Linked DNA regions of Homo sapiens: all the other regions are reported to be linked to region 3. Evidence: microRNA targets listed by miRTarBase, many of them from high-throughput screens and not tested one by one. Region 3 holds a microRNA gene; each other region holds the end of a gene's coding sequence.
What was found. The annotated mature microRNA hsa-miR-606 reads AAACUACUGAAAAUCAAAGAU and lies in region 3 at 3,422-3,442, shown strand. An mRNA with a match to its seed (bases 2 to 7 or 8) in the 3' UTR can be bound and repressed. Matches are read on the target gene's strand: a 7mer-m8 pairs with bases 2 to 8, a 7mer-A1 pairs with bases 2 to 7 and ends in A, and an 8mer does both.

Region 1 (6,948 bases), not on the chromosome of region 3:
GTCCCAACCCCAGAGATTTAGTAGGCCTGGAGCACACACCTGGACATCAGAATTTAAAAGCCCATCCCCCTGCTCCCAGGAAATTTTAATGCACATTGACAGTTGAAACCTATTAAACTCCACAAATTTGGTAATGTAATAATCCAAAAGCCACAATTTTCCTAGACTTCTGAAAGTCTTGTAGGAGTTATTTTTGCAAATGCAAATTTGTCAGAGCTTCAGAGCCATGTTTCTCCAAACTTTTATTTCTGAGTGCCACTTGAAAAAAACAATCCAAACATGCTTTCCTCTTCCTATCTGCATTTATCTTGGGTTCTAACTCCTTCCTACTAATCCCTTTGTCATTTGCATTCACCCCCTTACACTGTTCTCCCCTTCCTCTTACTATGCTTTGTAGTTCTACTCACAAAGGGCGTTAACTCCAATGAAGAAGCCCTGCTTTTCAAAATTGAGATTTAACTTGAAAGTTACTAATGCAAACACAAATTCTGCAGTTTTCTACTTTATTTACTTCCTGTCTCCTAACACTTGGAAAGCTTTTGTCTGGTCAGGTATGTCTACGTTCTTTTACTCTGCAGTTCAACTGGCTACATTTTTACTTTATACCAAGTTCTCTCCAAACACTAGAATTCTCCAACAGAGTGCTCCTTCTTAGTGTGAATGAGGTACTCAGACCATAATCCACATATTATATGTAACTCATTTACTGGTCAATCATTTCTACATCATATGTTTACTACTGTCGACTGGTTTTCTGGTCAGGGTACTTTTTCTTGGATGCTTCTAAATTCCTATGAAATGCATTTTTTTGGTCAATGTGATGTGAACTAGGGTCCAGAAACTGAAACTCCATTTGACATCAGTGTAGCTGAATTCCCCTAATAAATAAAAAGGTCAACTGTCAGTAGGAATAAGTATGTTTTCTGGTTTTCCCCTGAAATAAAATTGGTCAGTCAATGCTGACAGGCCAGGCATATGTTCCTGAGCTGATCACATTAAATATACACAATTTCTCTATCCTGCGACTACTTTCAAAAGCACATTGTTTCATCAAGGTTATCTCAAAACACTAGTACTTGCATATAGTGTATCATCTGCTCTACTTCTGTACTTTCTATATTATACACTGGGTTTTGCTTCCCCTAACACTTGAATAAAACATACTGCCAAGTTATAGTAGATTCGTATGTTCACACTTCATGGTTATCTTATGGTTTAAATGATGGTTACGTCTATTGTACTATTACATTCTTCCCAATCCTAATTTGACACCTGTTCATTTCCTTCCAATTTACCACCTTTTTGTTCCCATTTACATTATTTTCCTTTTCTATTACACCCGGTTCCCTCTGAAAAAGAGGATTTAAACCACGTAAGTAATAGGTACTAATCACACAATCTTTGCATGTTGGGGTAATATTAACATCAGAAGTGAAATACAAGAGGAGCCCTCCTTTTGAGAATCCCAAATTTAGCATCCATTCCCACCTGACAGCTTCCAGTTAGCTCATCCCACTGAGACAGCAGCAATTTATTAATTACCCTAGAAGAAGTTTCCCAATTATACGTTATGCAGCACCAGAAAAAAATGTTACTAAGGATTTTTTATCTACCTCCTCTCCTGCTTTCTAACCCTGAAATGAAAACTGCATTCTTGAATGATTGCAGGACATTTTCTTAGATTTCATGGCATATTGAGAAACTTGTGTTCTGAATTTTATCCCAAATTAAAATGTTTTTACTTTTAAATCTTACTTCCACTACTGCAGTGTAATCAGACTATCAATCTGAAATCCCTCAATTATTAAATCAGAAATCACTCAATTATTACCGTCAGATCTAACCCCTTTACCTGCACTGCCATGCCTACTATTCTGAATTTCTATTGAGCCAACTCAATTCTTACTTTGCAGGGCCCAGGGTTAAGTAATGTCACACTGACTATAAGCATATCATCTGATAAATGGCCTTTAAAAACACTAGCCCCTTTCCCAAAAAGCCTGTACTTATCTGCATTAGATCAGATTTTTAAAAGCCTTTTACCATGTGGTATTTCAATCCTGGTCTCTTTACTTTGCTACAGTTTTGGCCTAGGAACCTAAATGTCAAAGTACTCAATGAGTACACCTGTGATTATAGAAAACCTAGAGTACTGTTGTCTTAAACACGAGGAAATTTAAGCCACAGTAGCGTAGCCTAAAACCAAGAGCGTGAAATGACTTCCCCATCAACACAAACTAGACATGTCAGTATTCCAACAACCCTACCATATGTGTGTATAGATTTTCAATCTGTGATCATGCTCTACGGCTATTTGCAAAAGTAACTGCAGCTAATTAAAAGTAATGGCAAAAGCCACAATTACTTTTGCACCAACCTAATATTAAAAAGCGCTCTCCACAGCTTCATTCAATACCTGCTTTCCTAGAATAAAATGTATAGTTGGCCCCCCATGTTCATGGGTTCTGCACATGCAGATTCAGCCAACTACAGATCGAAAATACTAGCAAAGAAAAAAAACTAAAAAAAGTTAACAAAAATATAAATAAAAAAAGTTACAACTATTTACATACCATTTACATTTTATCAGGTATTTTAATGTAGAGATGATTTAAAATATACAGGAGAATATGCATAGGTTACATATAAATACTATGCCATTTTATGTAAGGGACTTGAACATCTGCAGATTGTGGTGTTCACAGCTAAACAGACTGCTCTGTGCAGGGAGAGGCCCTACAGTGAAGGGAAAAGTAGACACTTGATTGTGGACTAATTTGTTCAGTATTTCCCAAAAACTTACAGCTAACAATAATATTAAACAGGTTTTATTAGCATCTTATACATCTGACACTCTCTCCTAAGCATCCAGTTTATTTTCTAGTCACGGGTTACTTACTAAAAGTCTGTGTAACATGAGCTCACATCAGATTAGAAAACATCAAGTGGGTAGTATTTTTGACTGAATTAACATACAAAAGAAATTGCCTATATCATGTATATGGGCTCCAAGGGTAGTTCATACTTCAGCCTCTTCATTCTTTTCTGCTTTTGTCACCTGTTACAGAAAATGATCTATAAAATCCTCATAAATAAGACATGAGTTTTGCCTGTAATGAGTAGGATGAAAAAAGGCCAGTGCCGCATGCTATGAAACAATAGCAACTTTACAGGGGAATCCAAGGTTTGTGTGCACAAAAATTATAAGCGGCATTTTCTGCTATGCTGGAAAAACTGAAGTATAAAACACAAATGAACTAAGCCTTTCAAGGATGAGGTATCACCAACACTGGTAGCTGTTTAATATATTCATCTTACAACTGGATGCTAAAAATGCAATCACTGTAATTAATAAAGTTGAGGAAAACACAAAGATTAGCTAACAGGGGTAAAAGATCATTTAGAGTAAAATAAATGTGTAACATTCTCTATGTTCTCAATCACCTGGGAAGGCAGTCTATGGAATATCAGGAAGTAAGAGTTTTCTTGTTTTCAGGAACATGGAGGTATATACACTTCAGAATTCAGAAGGTAACTGGGGCTATAAATAGTAATTAAAAGAACAAAATAGAAGCAGGGGGGTTCCATTATGCAGCTGTCGCCATTTTCCTGAAATCTTGATGTTTTTGAGCCTCTCCTATTTAAGGACAAAACCATTTAGCACAAAACACAAACCTCAGAAAGGGTGCCAGCTGGACCACAAAGCACTGATGAAAAGGCAGAGAGGATATACTTCCCAAACTTTCATTAGGATGTAAAAGCCATTTTGAAAAAGTCTCCACTCTATGTCAAGTTGACTCCTCAATGCAACATGCATCTCAATGAAATATAATTTGAGTAGTGTTGTGTTGGTATGCATCATGATTATGACTCCAAGAAAAATATATCTAGTGCATTCTAGAGGTTTTGTGGAGGACGCTGTAAAACAAAGTTTGAAGTAAACAATAATAAAATACAAAAATAAAAAACCAGGGTTTTTTTTTTCTCCAAATTCCTGGTTTAATAAGGACTTGTTTATTTTGAGGAAAAAAGGTCCCAAACATCAGGCTGTTCACAAAAATAACCCACAGTATCAACTTTAGAAAACAAATCTTAAGACTATAACACTAATTATTTTTCTAGAGGATGCATTTGACATGCCAACTCTCATTCACAAAAATACATTGTTACATTTGTGTTGAACTGCCCCACACAGCACACTAATGTGAGGGTGTAACACACATACTTCTAACTCAAAGCTGCTTTCAAGAGCTACTCAACTAAATGAGATTGCCTTTGCAGTTAGGGAAGCAACTACTGAACTTATGTATGAATGAAAAGAACTGTACTCCCTGCATAACAAGAGATTATTTTGGAGACAGTTGATAAAAACCATACATCCTTTTTATTGTTAAGTCATAAAGAGGTATCAAAATTAAAAGCAAAAATTACAGGGTAAGACTTAACAAAACTACTAGGAGCGTCAAAGGAAGTGAAAATGGGACTAGGCGCGGGGCAATATGAATTAATGAACATGGGAAGGACAAGGATGGGGAGAACAGTGAGCATGTGCTGAAGATACTAGGGGAGAGGATCTGGTGAAAAATTTGATCTTAGACAAGCGCCTAGGTAAAGAAATAATGGGATAAGATTTCTAAACCCCACTATGTGCTTAAGAGTCATCCTCGCCATTGGCGCTGTCTCTGTCATCCTCTCCTTCCTCAGCCTCTTTTTCATCATCCTTGATCAACTCCAGCTGTGAGAAACAGACACAAACAGGATGGAGTTAGAGGCACTCCATGTGTCCCTGAGCCCCCCTCCACCACCTTTTTCTTTCCTTTCCCGTGGTTTTCACCTGGTCATCCCCCCGATCTTCATTATCATCATCATCCAGTAGGTCCCCCTCCTCAGCAGAGTCATCTGCACCCCCCTCAGACTCCATCTTCACATTAGTCTCATCTTTCTTCACGGAGCTGCTGCTCTGCTCCTCTTCTGACTTATCATTCTTCATCTCTACTGCGGATGAGAAGGACAAGTCTGTCTAGGGGCAGTAATGTCCACAGGACGTAGACAATCCCCACTAAGGATCACAGAACTGCAGCACAAATCTAAATCCTCCCACACAAATACCCTTCCCAATTCACACTCCCCAAGTTTCATATTACATTGCTTTATATTCCACTATTCCAACATGTACTTTCAAGTGCCTTATGTAACTAACCCAACTGTATACCAAGGGCAAGCAGAAAACCCATTTACCTGCTTGTTTGCTCTGTTCCTTTTCAATTTTTTCCAGGTTTTCCAGGAGAGAATCCACTTTTTGTTTTATCTGGGTCAGCTCCTTCTTAATGGCCTGAAGGTCATCTCCTTTCACTTTAATATAAACAAAATACTAGATTAAAATCAAATGTACCGAAGATATGAGTTAGCAAATACACTGCCACCAGACTACATCAGGAGCTCACAGGAGATACCCAGGGAGAAACAGAGCCAGTACAGATTTCTCGGTAATAAAGGCCCTTGGTTCTATTATAAAGCACGTTCTGTAATGGTTTTTATTGTTTTTAATGTCTTTTAGATCAGGGCTGTCGCTATGTTGACCAGGCCTGAGGACAGTGACTATTCACACGTATGATCACAGTGAACTTAAACTCCTGGCCTCATGAAATCCTCCCACTACAGCCTAGATCCCCAGGGTCTTAGCCTCCCCCTAAGCATCTGGGGCTACAGGCACGCACCACTGCATCAGACCTTCTGTAATGTTTTACTGCCTTCCATATTTCCAGTTACAGGAGGAGTTCAATATAGAAAAGTTAAAAAAAATCAACATACTGAACACTGTCTGAATTTTAGTTTTTAAATAACACAAAAAAATCTCAGGAACTTAACGCACACCTCAACTACATAAAGTCAAATGACATTTTTTAAATTACCTAGCTGTTGCAGTCTAGAATTGGCCACTCAATCACAATCTTGTCTCCTCTGTTATTTTGGATTTTTTTTTTTTTCTTGAGATGGAGTTTTGCTCGTCACCCAGGCTGGAGTGCAATGGCATGATCTCGGCTCACTGCAACCTCCGCCTCCTGGGTAAAAGCGATTCTCCTGCCTCAGCCTCCCAATTAGCTGGGATTACATGCACGCACCACCATCCCCGGCAAATTTTTTGTATTTTCGGTAGAGATGGGGTTCCTCCATGTTGGACAGGCTGGTCTTGAACTCCTGACCTCAGCTGATCCACCCGCTGGGCCTCCCAAAGTGCTGGGATTACAGGCATGAGCCACCACACACCCAGCCTCTTCCATTATTTTGAATACACAAAGTCATGTGGCACAAAAATATTGTAACTGCATTAGCTTCCCTATCTCAAAACACAAGAGATACCAAAATCACAAAATGAAATAATACATACACTTTCCAGACTTGGAAGATCCCCGCTGTCCACTCTTAGAATTGAAGCCACTTTTGCCCCTTCGTGAAGTGTTTCCTGATACACGCTGACGTTTCGAGGGCACTACAGCCCGAGCAATAGGAGGAGGAGGAGGTACACGTGCTGGGTAACTGTACATCCTATTGGATAAGAGGAAAATGGAATTCATTCAAACCTAACATTAACTCAGCACAATTCAACAGACCTTATGATAAATAGTAAGTGAATATTGTCTCTAGTCGTTTCCTTTTATTAAATTTCATTAAGAAGGCCAGCAAAAACCTCCACAGTGGGGTTTAGAAATCTTATCCCATTATTTCTTTACCTAGGCACATAAAATAGTTGTAATACTGTAGCAACTTTTCCTCAGGAAAATAAAACATATATCAAATTATATGGTTGGCTGGCCTTTGGCACTGGATATAAATGATTCCTCTGTACTAGTGTCAGTATTAACAGGGCATTTATTATAATGAATAGCCTTTGGATCTTATTATTTTCAAATATACATTACAATAAACAATTCACATACGGTCAAATAC
Region 2 (6,948 bases), not on the chromosome of region 3:
CCAAACTTATAGCGCTGACCAACGCACAACAGGTAGCAGAGAGGTGTTTAGGCACAAAAATTAAGGGGAGATCCTAGCTTTAATTCTGGGAATTTTTGAGGAAGGATGACATTTCATTTAAAGTTTGATAGAATCGGGAACTTCTATTAGGGAATGGTACTGCAAGTAGAACAGAATTGATTTAAGAGCCAGAACGTTTCCTTTGGGCTCCTGACTTCAGGTGCAGCCCTTTTCAGCTCCTGATAATAGCAGGAAGCGGAAACGACTGCATGGAGAGCTGTCCCTCCCAGCAGCAGGTCTGTCATGAGCACGAGGCCACTTGGTCTAGGAGAATCATCTGCCTTCCTCCTAACAGTAATTCTCATTCTTGGGCTTAGTCTAAATTAGGATCATTAATATAATCCAGAAATCATTAGCTGTCAGTTTATTTTAAAATTATGGCAGCTACATTTAAGCCATTTTGTCTTCCATAGGAAACTGGGAATCTCATAGGAAGAGCCAGGACATGAAGAAAAGGAAATATGATCCATCTTAACTGAGGCTCAGGCCACATAATTGGACTCTGTCACAAAGGGACTTTGGAAAACTACTTTTTGGTCATGAAATTGTTCATCGCTGCTGGAGAATGAACGTCATTGCGATTTATCTTGCTTCATTCTGAACCTTATCAAGAGGATCTGACTGAGAGCCCACTGCAGTTAGAGCTGAGCACTTTTGAAAAGCTTGTCCATCACTCTAGTAGGGAGAGGCTCTGGACAGATGAATACCTTTTCTTCGGCTTGTGAGGCTTCCCACTATTTATTACTGAACTATTATGTTAATGAAGATGGACATTTTAGGAATCACCAATGGCTCCTTGCCCTCAAGCAATATAGGCCAGACTTGGTCCTAAGCACCTGCCTCAGCAATTGTCTACATTCAGTTGTTTTGCATAACGTCTGCCTTCTTTCCTTTACGGTCCATGCCTTTAATGTTGCCCACATTAAGCACTGTGGATCACGACAGGAAAAAGGTTGGAGCAGTGCTTTTCACTACTTTGTATCAATCCAGGCTACAATCTTCATTTAATATAAATAATTTATGGATTTATGACATTACAATCCTGCATTGTTTCAAGACTGACATTTTTTCCTAAGGAAGGAAATAATCATCTAAGACCACGAAAAAAGGCTGTTTTTTGTTTTTTTTTTTTTTTTTTTTTTTGAGACGGGGTCTGGCTGTGTTGCCCTGACTGGAGTTCAGTGGTGCAAACACAGCTCTCTCCACAACCTCTTGGGCCCAAGTGATACTCCCACCTCTGCCTTACAAAATACAGGGATTACTGGTGTGAGCCACTGTGTCTGGCCAGAAAAGGCATTTTTGAGAAAGCAAATCGTATACCTTATTAACAAAATAGAATATATATATATTGCTTATCTGAAATGCTTGAAACCAGAATTGTTTTGCATTTTTTGAATATTTGTATACACATAATGAGACCTTGGGGATGGGACCCAAGTCTGAACGTGGAATTCACCTGTGTTTCGTGTATATGCCTCATACACATAATTTTGTGCATGAAACAGAGTTTTTGTATAAGAAGATACACTGCAGCTGAAGAGGGCTGGGTTTTTTTTTCTCTTAGGGTCGCTGCATAAACTGTTGTATGCCTGGTGCTTTGCGACTTGTCACACGAGGTCACGTGTGGAATTTTCCACTTCTGGCATCACGTCAGTGCTCAGAAATTTTCTGATCTCAGAGCATTTCAATTAGGGATGCTCAAACGCAACTGTTTCTACTTCCCCATTTCAGGTGTGAGATGTAACCCACCTTGACCATAAATTGGCTTTTCATAGTGCTCAGATGTTTCATAATTCTTCCCCCAAAATAATGAAGTTTGCAGTTTAACAACTTTTTTTTTGAGAGGGGGGGTCTGGCTCTGTAGCGCAGGCTGGAGTGCAGCGGTGCCATCTTGACTCATTGCAGCCTCCGCCTGCCAGGATTCAAGCAATTCTCCTGCCTCAGGCTCCCGAGTAGCTGGGATTACAGACACCCACCACGACGCCCGACTAATTTTTGTATTTTTAGTAGAGGAGACGGGGTTTCTCCATGTTGGCCAGGCTGGTCTCAAACTGACCTCAAGTGATCTGCCCACCTCGGCCTCCCAAAGTAAAAAGTACTAGAATTATAGGCATGAGCCATTGCGCCCAGCCAATTTAATAATTTTTTTAGACGTATTATTTTGGGCTGGGCTGTGGCTAATCTTGAAGCAGTGACTTCCTATTTTTTGGCTCAGACCCATTTGGGAAGCTGTGAACCTGAGATAAGGAAGTCTGAAAGTACTAGCCGGCAGCCGACCGTTTCTATTCCTTTCGAAGTTAAGGAGACAGCAAAGGAGCTCCCAGGAATTAGGGATCCAGTTATAAATTGCACTTAACTCAAAATAGTGCCAGTGAGAATGTGAAGGAATCTTCTGGAAATGAAACCCCACAGCTCAACAAAAGCAAGTTTGGTTTATTTGAATGGTTTCATTAAATAAGTCTACAAAGGTAACAAACTGAAGCACAAAGCGCAATCTTACAAGAAGCGCAACACCCAGAGTTAGTGCAAAATGTACAATTAACGGCTGCTGAGAAACCCCCAAAGTTTGAATTTTTATTTTTATTTTTAACAGTGTACATTGTTAAATAATGTAAGGAAAACATTTATAATTCAGAAAGTTTTTAATGTGGAAAAAGATACTCAAAGTGTACTATTAACACAAAAATAATTTAAACAGTTCAGTAGCACTAGTTCATTCCTCTAGGCTTGTTATTTCATACACAGGAGGATGAAATCAACAGTAAATAACACCAGTTCTGACTTTTTTTGTGTATGAGTGAAAAGATGTCAAAATTATTATTAAACCCAAATAACAAATGATAATGTGCTGCATGAGGCTCCACTGCTCCTCTGGTATAAAGTATGTTTCACTCTTGGGTGGCCCCTTTCTCAGCTACTCAGCCCCTTGTTGGTTCTATCCTTACTCTCTCCACAAGAAATACAAGCAGAGAATAAATAAATCATTTTAAAGCAGGGGTGGAAGCCCTTGCCCTTTTCCTTTCTACCTTTTAAAAACCTTCAGCTCTCATTTGCATATTTAGGGCCGTAGACCAACTTACTTACTTACTAAGGGAAGCAGGGCCCTTAAGGAATGAACAGGGTACAGGAGCCTCCAGCCTCTTTCTGTGGTAGTGGTGGTGGTGGTGGTGATTCCCAGAATATGCCATTGACGTGGGTAAAAGGTTGGAAATATTTTCAGTTTCCCAACTAAGAGTCAAGAAGCACCCCAAAATTAAGAGTCCTAGCTTCTTTCTTTGTCTTCAGAGATAACAAAGATCCTAAACATAGCCAGTTAGGACAGTATTTCCGGAAAGCTCTGAAAATAATTAATAACTACCCATTACAAGGAGGCATAGCACTGAATAACACTGATTGGTTGCAGTTATTACTTACGGGGAGTATTATTTATTTGAAAATGTGAACATATTAGTTGTACTTCTAGAAATAAAGGTGGCACAATAGATTATGATCCTGCAACCATTTGGACATCATAAAGGAAATGAGTAGGAATAAGTATTCTTTCCTAGAATGATTAATTCAGATGTGGAAAGATAGATAGATTAACTTTCCACAAAATGTAGTACCCCAAGCTGAGAAATGCATGGTACATGTGCAACAAGAGGAAAGCAATCCAAACAGTTTTTCTGAGAGCAATTTTCTCCATCTGTGACTTTTCACTATCAGGTTCCCCAACTTGAAAACTAGCCCCCCACCCCCTTCTCTTTATGTTCAGTTTCTTCTAGGTCACGTCTGTTCAAGCCTAGCTCAAATAAGAAAGGTTTATATGACAGTCACTGGCCAGGCATCACGTTTGTTTCCTCATTCTTTAGTCTTTGTCTTTCACCCAGCACACACCATTCTTTTAAGTTGTCCAATTTTGTTACAACACCCCCTCCTCACTATTCCCGAAACAGAACTTTCTGTTTTTAACCACTGATGCCAACCTAACTTCCCACCCTACTCATCTTACACCTGCTCTAGACAAAGTTGTTGAATGACTTAAAAAAATACTTTTTCAATTTCCCTTTGGCATAACCACTGCTGGACTGCTGGGGTCACATGGACCTACGATTTCCTTCCACATGCCCTTTATTGATCTGGGGTCTGGTAAGTTGATGCTAATGGCAGAAGCAATAGAAGTCCAAGGCACTAAAATGTCCAGCAAGCAACACTGGGAAACAGAAGTATTCAAGTACAGTAATTTATACAATTTTACATTCACATTTATTTATCTAATACAATGGAAATACAAAGGAAAAAGTTAAAGTGTCTCAATAAGTAAAGGACAGAGCTAGCTTTTTTTGGAACTTTTTAAACGTTTCATATTTTACTCTTAAAACTACTGTTGTCCAACAACATTTTATATATCACAGTGTTTCCACATCAAAACTGATGGCAAAGTTACATGTCCGCAGGGAACTTAATTTTTTTTTTTTCCTAATTGCTAATGCTGCAGTCAAAGCTGCTAATATCTTTTGCTTAAAGCACTAATGACCTATCATAAGAAAGAGTTGCACCCCAGTACCCTGGTATTTTTCACTGGGTTCTAAAGAGCAAAGAAAAAATAAAAAAGAGAGGGGTAAAAAAAAGGGAGGAGGGCAGGGTAGGAGAGAGCCCAGTAGGTGGTTTTTGTCCTGTGGTTCGGATTCTTGAGGGAGTGAGGGATTCAGGGCATGTACCAAAAGCAAGAGCTCCACCCACTCGAAATTACAGATGGGTTTGATTTTACATTGAGTTCTCCAGCTTCCTTATGAACAAGACTTTCCTAGCCCTCATCCTCATTACTGAGTATAGATAAACAGGAAAGCATGGTCTGAAGCTGCCCCTTGACAAAAAAGCTGTTCTTTCCTTCCTCTCCCATTCCAATAACTGGAGCGGGGGAGACTCTCCATTCTGAGGGCTCAATGCAGTATTAAAAACATTCCCCTCTGGCAAGAAATAACCAGTTAAATGCAGCACTAGTAGTTAGTATATAGGCTACTTCCCACCCCCACCCACCCCCTCAGCATTCCATCTCCTGCCCCCAGATCTATTCAGTTAATGTCTCTAGGTCTAAGTGGTCCGCAGGTTGGAGCCTGGGGGGTTGCTGATGGATTTCTGCAAATTGCTGATGTTGAAATTCTGCAAGGAGGCAGTTCCCACAGGTTGGAACTGGCCAAGTGGCTGTGGTGCTGGGCCACCCGTCCCACTCCATTGAGCGCCAAATGGGGTAGCTGGAAAGCCATACTGCTGTGGGGGGCACATAGACTTGGTGAAGTGACCTAGAGAGGTAGCTGATGCTGCAGAGATGGGGGCAGAGCCACCCAGGTTCGAGGTCATGGAGATGCACAGTTGCCCAGGTGCAGAGAACTTCCTTGCCATTCCAGGGCCCTGAAAACAAAACCACCACGTGTCAAGTCTGGTGTGGGCCATGGTATAAAATGTGTGGCGCTAACATATACTTCTAGTATAATCCTGTAAGATACAGCAGAACAGTCTTCTGTAGTATTTATTGGCTCTTTATATTTACCAAGTAAGGGTGAAAATAATCCTCATGAGAGGGAGGGATGTCATGTGCGTGTGTGTCTGTGTGTGTGTAGTTGAGGATGACGAAGGAAAAACGAAGAAGAAAAAGTTGAGCTGACCAACAAGAGGTTAGGAATTCAGGGAAGGAAAAATAAAAGGGTACCTGGGGGATTTTTGCCTTGTTTTTCTAAAGTATTAAAATTGAAGAAGGTCGTGGCGTAAGACGTTAAGCAGCAGCTTAGTTGTTTCTATCACCTTGACTCAGATGTGTGTTACGGATTCTCTGCGGCAAAAGAGAGACTTACCTCGTAATTCATGTGCCCTTTGCTTCCTCTCCTGCCTGAGAGATTCATGGCATCTCGGGCCCAATTGTCTACCAACTTGTGCAAGTCATCTGTGAATGTGCCCTTCCTGCTGGACGTCATGGCAGGAGGCTGAGCTTGGGCGGCTTGGCTGTTCACTGTTGCCCCAACAGTGTTTGTGCTGCTGGTTCCTATTATAAGCAACAGAATACGAGCATTAAAAGAAGCCTAGGTTACAATTTCAGGAAGAGGGAAAACTTCACGGGATGATGAATGGCAAGCCACAGAATGAGAAGAGGATGAACTGGGAAGCCATGCAAGAGGGAAGATTCCAAGGTTTTGTTTAGCCATTTGTTTTGGTATAATAGGGTGATGAAAACAGTTTCTCTTCAGTAGCTGCTGCTAAGGCTGAACAACTCAGGATGACGGTAGGTACACAGGCAGGGGCCTCTTTCAGTCCATTCACAAAGCACCTAAGAGTATTGGAACTGCTCGCCAGTACGCTATTCCCAGCATCACGTTGCTGATGGAGGTGTGATACAATCAGCAAGGCTAGTTGCTCTGGAATTTTGCAGAATGCAGGGAAAAAGAGGTTTTCTTGTGCATTGGGCACGGTTAAAGTAGGAGTAGGAAAAGATGCTTGGCTAAGGATAAGGAGAAGGTGGGTTTCCAAACCATTGGACACTGCCACATTCTTTAGCCTTTTTTTTTTTTTTTGAGATGGAGTCTCACTCTATTACTCAGGCTGGAGTGCAGTGGTACGATCCTACCTAACTGCAACCCCTGCCTCCTGGGTTCAAGCGATTCTCCTGTCTCAGCCTCCAGAGTAGCTGGGATTGTAGGTGTGCACCACCATGCCCAGTTAATTTTTGTATTTTAGTAGAGACAGGGTTTTGCCGTGTTGGCCAGGCTGGTCTCAAGAACTCCTGACCTCAGGTGATCCGCCCGCCTTGGCCTCCCAAAGTGCTGGGATTACAGACGTGAGCCACCACGCCCGGCTTTTTTTTTTTTTTAAAGGAAGGGTCTCTTCTTTTTCTGTCACCCAGGCTGGATACAGCGG
Region 3 (6,948 bases):
CAAAAGCATAATGCTTTTGAGATTCATCCATGTGGTTGCATGTATTACTAGCTTGTTTCTTTTTATTGTTGAGTAGTATTCTATTGTGTGAATGTATCAGAATTCTTGACACGTTCACCATTTGATGGCTGTTTGGATTGTTTAAAGTTTTAGCTATTTTGAATAAGCAGCAATAAATATTTGCTCAGAATATTCAATCAATTGAATATTGGGATGTTTGATCTGGAATGCAGATCCTGCACATATGAAGGGCTGCCTGTAAAGGACTTGAGCATGCTTAGATTTTGGTATTTGTGGGGTGTCCTGGAACCAATCTCCCATACCAACAGACCACTGTATTTAAATTTGTTTTTAATTTTATTTATTTGTATATATTTTTAGAGACAAGGTATTGTTACATTGTCTAGGTTATTCACAGGCACAGTCACAGCATACTACAACCTCAGACTCCTGGGCTAAAGTGATCCTCCTGCCTCAGCCTCCTGAGTAGTTGAGACTACAGGTACATGCCACTGCTTCAGGTTATTTTTTATTTTTGAAGTCAGATTTAGTGAGATATAATTTATGCACAATTAATTCCCTTTCTAAGTGCACAGATGATTTTTGACAAATGCATACAGTCATGTAACCACCATCATCATAATCAAGACGTAACATTTTTATCGCCATAAAAAGTTTCCTTGTGCCCACTTTTCAATCTCCTTTCTCCTTCCTTGGCTCATGGCATGCACTGATGTAATTATTGTCTCAGTGGCTTTGCCTATCCCCAGAATGTCATAAAAATGGAATCATACAGTATTCACCCTTTTGTGTGCCTAGTTTCTTTCACTTAGCATAATGCTTTTGAGATTCATCCATGTAGTTGCATGTATCACTAGTTTGTTTCTTTTTATTGTTGAGTAGTATTCTATTGTGTGAATGTACCACAATTCTTGACACATTCACCATTTGATGGCTGTTTGGACTGTTTAAAGTTTTAGCTATTTTGAATAAGCAGCTATAAACATTTGCTCAGAAACTAGTCTGTCTTAGTGAATGTTCCATGGGCCCTTCAAAAGAATGTGGATTCTGCTATTGTTGGTTGGAATCGTCTATAGATGTCAGTTAATTCAATTTGGTTGATAGTGTTGTTCAGGCTTCTATATCTTTACTTATTTTTGATCTACTTTTTATATAAATTACTAAGAGAGGAGTATTCAAGTCTCCTATTCTTCCTGGTTTTTGTCTACTTCTTTCAGTTTGATCAGATTTTTCTTTATGTATTTTGGAACTCTGTTGTTAGATGCATACATATACATTAGTTATATCTTCTTGATGAACTGAGTCTTTGTTCCTAAACATATTCCTTGTTCTGAAACCTACTTTGTATTATGTTATTATACAGACTGGAGTTTTTGTGTAATGTTTGTGTTGTATCTATTTTTTCACTGTTAATATATGTCTCTGTGTTTATATTTATAATGAATTTCTTTTAGAGAGCATATAGTCAGGTCTTGCTTTCATAACGAGTCTGATTATATCTGCTTTTTAATTTGGAATGTTTAGGCCATTTATCCTTAATGTAACTATTGGTATAGTTGGTTTTGAGTCTACCATTTTGCAAATTGTTTTCTATGTGTCTTATATGTTCTCTATTTCCTTCTTTTCCTGCCTTCTTTTGAATTATTTGTATATATTTATGATTTCATTTCATCTCCACCACTGGCTTATAAGTTTACTCCTTTTAAAAATGTTCTAGTGATTGCTTTAGGGTGTACAGTATATATATTTAACACAGTTTACCTTCAGATAATACATTGCTTTATTTATAGTTTAAGAATCTTACAATGGTACTCTTCCATTTTCTTCTTTCCATCCTTTGTTCTATTGTCTACATTTTACTTTTACATATGTTATAAACTCTACTGATCATTGGTACTATCTTTTCTTTAGACAGCAATTATCTTTTTTTTTTAACCTGGGAAAATGTTTTTTTTACTTGATTAATAGGAAAATGAAAATATTCTGTTTAAATATTTTCTAGTTTAATCTATTTGCAAACTAAATATATTTTGCAGTCAGCTATCTTTTTTTTTTTTTTTAACCTAGGATTTGAGGAAGGATGTTCCACAGAAATAGAACAGTATGAACACAAGTAGAGCAACAAAAGAAAGTGTGGTTCAACCTTACCAGGAGATATGTAGGTGTAGAAGCACTAAAAAGTAAGACCATGGAGGGCCTGGCTTACTTGATATTTATTTATTTATTTTTTATAATACTTTAAGTTCTGGGGTACATGTGCAGAACATACGGGTTTGTTACATAGGTATACACGTGCCATGGTGGTTTGCTGCACTCATTAACCCATCATCTACATTATGTATGTCTTCTAATGCTACCCCTCCCCTAGCCCCCATCCCCCAACAGGCCCCAGTGTGTGATGTTCCCCTCCCTGTGTCCATGTGTTCTAATTGTTCAGCTCCCACTTATGAATGAGAACATGTGGTGTTTGGTTTTCTGTTCTTGTGTTACTTTGCTGAGAATGATGGTTTCCAGCGTCATGCATGTCCCTGCAAAGGACATGAACTCATCCGTTTTTATGGCTGCATAGTATTCCATGGTGTATACGTGCCACATTGAGTCAGCTATTTTTTTTGAGAGGCTAAAATTAAGAAAAAATTTGCTGGGCACTGTGGCTTATGCCTGTAATCCCAGCACTTTGGGAGGCTTAGGTGAGAGGATCGCTTGAGGCCAGGAGTTTGAGACCAGCCTGGGCAACATAGTGAGACCCATTCTCTACAAAACATTAAAAAAAATATTAGCTGGGTGTGGTGGCTCAAACCTGTAGTTCCAGCCTCTTGGTAGACTGAGATAGGAGGATTGCCTGAGCCCAGGAGGTCAAGGATTCAGTGAGCTGTGATTGCACCACTGCACTCCAGCCTGGGCAACAGAGTTAGACACTGCCTAGGCAACAGAGTTAGACCGTGTCTCTAAAAAATAAAAGAAATAAAAACAATCTGTCTTTTATTATCCACATTTTAATCATTTCTAGAGCTCTTTCTTTCTGTAGATCTGAATTTCCTTCTAGTACCAGACTCCTGCCTGAGGTCTTTATTTAACATCATCATAGTATGGTATGTTGGCAATGAATTTTTTCAGTTTCTGTGTGTCTGAAAAATTCTTTATCTTACCTTCATTTTTTAGCAGATACTTTCACTTGTATAGAATTCCATGTGGACAGTTTTTTCTGTCAGTGCTTTAATGGTGTCACTCCATTTTCTTTTGCATTGCATTCTTTCTGTTGAGCAGTGCGCTGTCATTCTTAGCTTTGTTCTGTGTTTTTTTTTTTTCCCCCCCCTCTGGCTGCTTTCAGAATTTTCACTGTATCCTTGGTTTTTAGTAGTTTTACTATGATGAGGTGTGCCATCCACCCCATCATAGTAAACTACTGAAAATCAAAGATACAAGTGCCTGACCACTTCTACCCCTCATCCCCTACTTGGGATTTTCTGAGGTTCTTTGAACTGTGGTTTGCTCTTTTTAATTAATTTTGGAAAATTCGTAGCTATTATCTCTTCAAACTTTTTTTTTCTGCTTCCTTTTCTCTCTCTCCTACTTTTGGGATTCAAAATATATGTTATACTGTTTACTATTATCCTATAGCTCTCATATGCTTTTTTTTTTCCTTGTTATTATTTTGGATCATTTCTACTCACCTATCTTCAAGTTTGTAAATCATTTTCTCTGCTGTGTTCAGTTTGTTGATAAACCTTATGATGAAATTCTTCCTTTTTGTTATCCTTTTGATTTCTAGCCTTTCCATTTGACTCATTTTAAAGAAAAAGTTTCCATTTCTCTTTTACAATTATTTATTCATTCATGTTGTCTACCTTTTTCTCTAGATTAAAAACTTAATTATAGTTATTTTAAGTCCCTATCTGATAATTTTAACATCTGCATCACATCTGTTTCTGGTAATGTTGACTACTTTATCTTTTGACCAAGAGTCTTCATTTTTTTTCTTGCTTTTTGTCTGATAATTTTTGATTCAATGCCAGATAATGCATATAAAAGAACAGTAGAGACTGAGGCAAATAGTATTTATGCTTGGAAATGGAGACTCTTCTGTTGGGATGTTAGTGTGGGTAGTTGAGTCAATGCAGTCAGTAATTGAGCTAGATCTGAGTTTTGTTCTATGACAGCTTCAAATTCTTCCAGTGGTGGCTTGCTGCTACCTTTGCTTAGTGGTGAGCCTGGAGAGATGAAGGGTTTTCCTCAAGTTTCCATTTCATCCTCAGCTTTCAGCTGGTCCCATATGCTTACTCTAGAGAATGGGTCTCTCTCAATGCTGTTGCCCCTCTTTGAGGGCTAGACTGCTGTTGCTTATTACTCAGTGTGAAGCTTGTGGTGTGGTGGAGGATCTCAGTCTTAGGTAGGCCCTGTGTATCTGGGTCCCAGGTATGAGACTTTTTCTGTCTCATATTTGTTGGGACTCTTGGGTAGGAGAGCATTTTCTGTCCCTCCTCCAGGGCAGCAGGCCTCTATATCTATGCAAGATTCTGTAACTGAAAAGGTTTTCTACCCCTTCACCCAGAGGCAGACATATTTTGCTTCTATCTCTCCTTTAGTTAAAGCGCACCTTTTAAGGAGGAAGTGGCTTCCTCCTTAGTGGCTTATGACTTCTCTTTTTTATGAGAGAAGGGCCTGGGAAGTAGGCAAGATTTCATGCCTGTGCACAGTGTAGGGGGCTCTCTTTTATCTGTTGTTTGGTCTTAATCTCTCTTGTGAGCACCATGGGGAAAAAAATGAGGAGTGAGTGCAGACTCTCCTTGTGGCTGGGGCTCTTGGGAATTCTAAACTTTCTTGTTAGCCCATATCCAACATTAAAAAATTTGTTAAAATGTTAGCTGTTTTCTTTTTATTTACTTTTTTGATGGCTACCTTTTCAATCTGTCCTCTGCTAAAGAAGAAATGCTTTGTGTGTTCTATCTGTTCTTGGAGGGACTAGTCACACTTTGAAATTAAGTTCACCATTTGCCTTGCAACCTCAGCTCTCTGATGGGTTGGAGAAAAGTTATGATTTTGTAGATTATCTGGCTTTTTCCTTTTAGTATGGGAGTGATGCTTATTTGTAGTTTTCTGCATCCTGAGAAGTAATGGAATTCCTAGATGATATTTTAAGTGACACTGGTCAGTTGCAGTGTGTCCAGGGTGATCAGGAGGATTCTAGAAATCCTTCCAAATGGGAAGCAATGAAACAAACAAGGAACATTTATACTGCAGAAGAGAAATGATGTTGGAGAGAGGAACATGGTGTATGATAGTCACTGTACATAGCTGTGAGATTGATGTGATGAGGTAGGTGTAGACTTTTACCTGACATTTCTAATGGCATTAATCAATTAACCGATCAGTTATTTAGCCCCTCCTCTGTGCTAGGTACTAGGAATGCAAAGACAAATGAGTTCCTATCACTACTCTTAGGAGCTCCCAATCTAGAATTATGAATTACAGCTAATGATGGTAATTATAAGGTGGCAGACTTCAGTTTAATCTAAGAAAGAACTTGCCAATGTTTAAAGACGTTGAAAGTGGGATAGACAATGTGGAACGGATGTGAGCTTTTAGAGTTGTAGTGACCAAAATTCAAAACCTGGCTGTACTATTTTCTAGAAGAGAGAACATAGGCAAGTTAACATCTTTCTTTGAGGCCTAGTTTCCTCATCTGTAAAATGAGGATGATAATACTTTCGTTAAAGGATGATTGAGTAGATGCAAAGAAATGAAGTATGTAATGTGTCCAAGTCATTTACTTTTCTTTTTATATTTCCTTAAAGTTGTATACTCTTGTCAGTAGAGAGATTTAAGCAGAATATCAGCCAGGGTGGAGTGGATTCTTGTTCTCCTCCATAGGAGATGGGACAGGATGATCTACTGGTCCTTTTCAGTTAGTCCTGAGGGGCTGGGATTTAAGCATCCATGGGTATCTGATGAGAAGGGACAGTCTCTGATTCTGATGGGGAGGAGTTTGGTGGGCCCTGGGCTGTCTGCTCTCCATGGCCCTATGAGAGAGTTCTAGAGAAAACTATGGAGCAACCACACTTTTCTTACATGATTACTAAGGGAGAAGATGCAGGCAGCTACCGGAAGGGGAGCTGACTCTTGGAAGAAGGGAAAGGCTTAGGGTGAATTTCTCATTTTCTACAGCTTTTCTCTTGAGTACAGCCTTCAGTCTGTGCCATGTGGGAAGATAGATAACTTGATAGAAAATATGTATCTTGGTTGGCTTGGATAACCAGAGACTAGAGTTCAGGACAACCTTAGCTGCTGGAAGGAGTGGGGTCTCTGAAAGGAGTGAGCCACAGAGTGGAGCCCCAAATTCCATGTATAAAATCTACCTAAATCTAAGCTGGACTTTGAACTTCATGTGTGGTGCAGATTCCACACTGGCTAGATAAGGCTGAAACAATTGAACTGAAATATGAACTGCTGCCTACCTTAGGGGAGACAGTGTTTTGCAGTTTGATTTCAGTGAAGTTAACTGTGTGCTTTAAAAAAGTGACTTCAAAGAAAATTAGGAGAAGCTGTAGTTTCTACAACATATCATTCAAGAGATCCAGGATGCAACCTAAAATTACTTACTGCATGACGAAACACAATCAACAGAGATCAACTGCAGGAATACCTGGATGATGGAATAGCAAGCAATGATTTGATGAAAGTAGCTGTTATAAGTGTGCCCAAGGACATAAAGGGAAATACATTTGCTCATCATATAGGGAAAGATTGGAAATCCCAGCAGAGAAATAGTGAACATTCTAGGACTGAAAATTATAATATCAAACAAAAAAATTCACTGGATGAGCTTAATGGTAGAATGGAGATGACAGCGCAAGAGTCAGATTAATGAAAGATCAATAGACATTATTCAGTCTTGAAAAAATTGTGAACAGGGATGCAGGGATCAGT

Region 1: miRTarBase lists HNRNPC as a target of hsa-miR-606. Seed matches in the 3' UTR shown: 7mer-m8 at 4,449-4,455 and 7mer-m8 at 4,292-4,298.
Region 2: the mRNA of WNK1 is a reported target of hsa-miR-606. Seed matches in the 3' UTR shown: 7mer-m8 at 4,419-4,425 and 7mer-A1 at 3,412-3,418.

Annotation. Positions count from the first base shown.
Region 1 is chr14:21,206,572-21,213,519 of GRCh38, forward strand. It overlaps HNRNPC (heterogeneous nuclear ribonucleoprotein C), which reads right to left. Exons shown (of 9, transcript NM_004500.4): 6 at 6,389-6,546; 7 at 5,239-5,352; 8 at 4,835-4,995; 9 at 2,576-4,735. The coding sequence ends at 4,652. It overlaps LINC00641 (long intergenic non-protein coding RNA 641), which reads right to left and starts at 329. Exons shown (of 2, transcript NR_038971.1): 1 at 40-329.
Region 2 is chr12:906,978-913,925 of GRCh38, reverse strand. WNK1 (WNK lysine deficient protein kinase 1) reads right to left here. Exons shown (of 28, transcript NM_018979.4): 27 at 5,892-6,079; 28 at 2,474-5,451. The coding sequence ends at 5,134. RAD52 (RAD52 DNA repair protein) reads left to right here. Exons shown (of 12, transcript NM_134424.4): 11 at 1-32; 12 at 474-2,190. The coding sequence ends at 535. Among named protein-coding and RNA genes, the nearest start is that of RAD52, 39 kb to the left of the region's middle. RefSeq lists an enhancer at 1-80.
Region 3 is chr10:75,549,097-75,556,044 of GRCh38, forward strand. It overlaps MIR606 (microRNA 606), which reads left to right and starts at 3,362; the gene lies at 3,362-3,457. The region is part of intron 2 of LRMDA (leucine rich melanocyte differentiation associated); the gene reads left to right.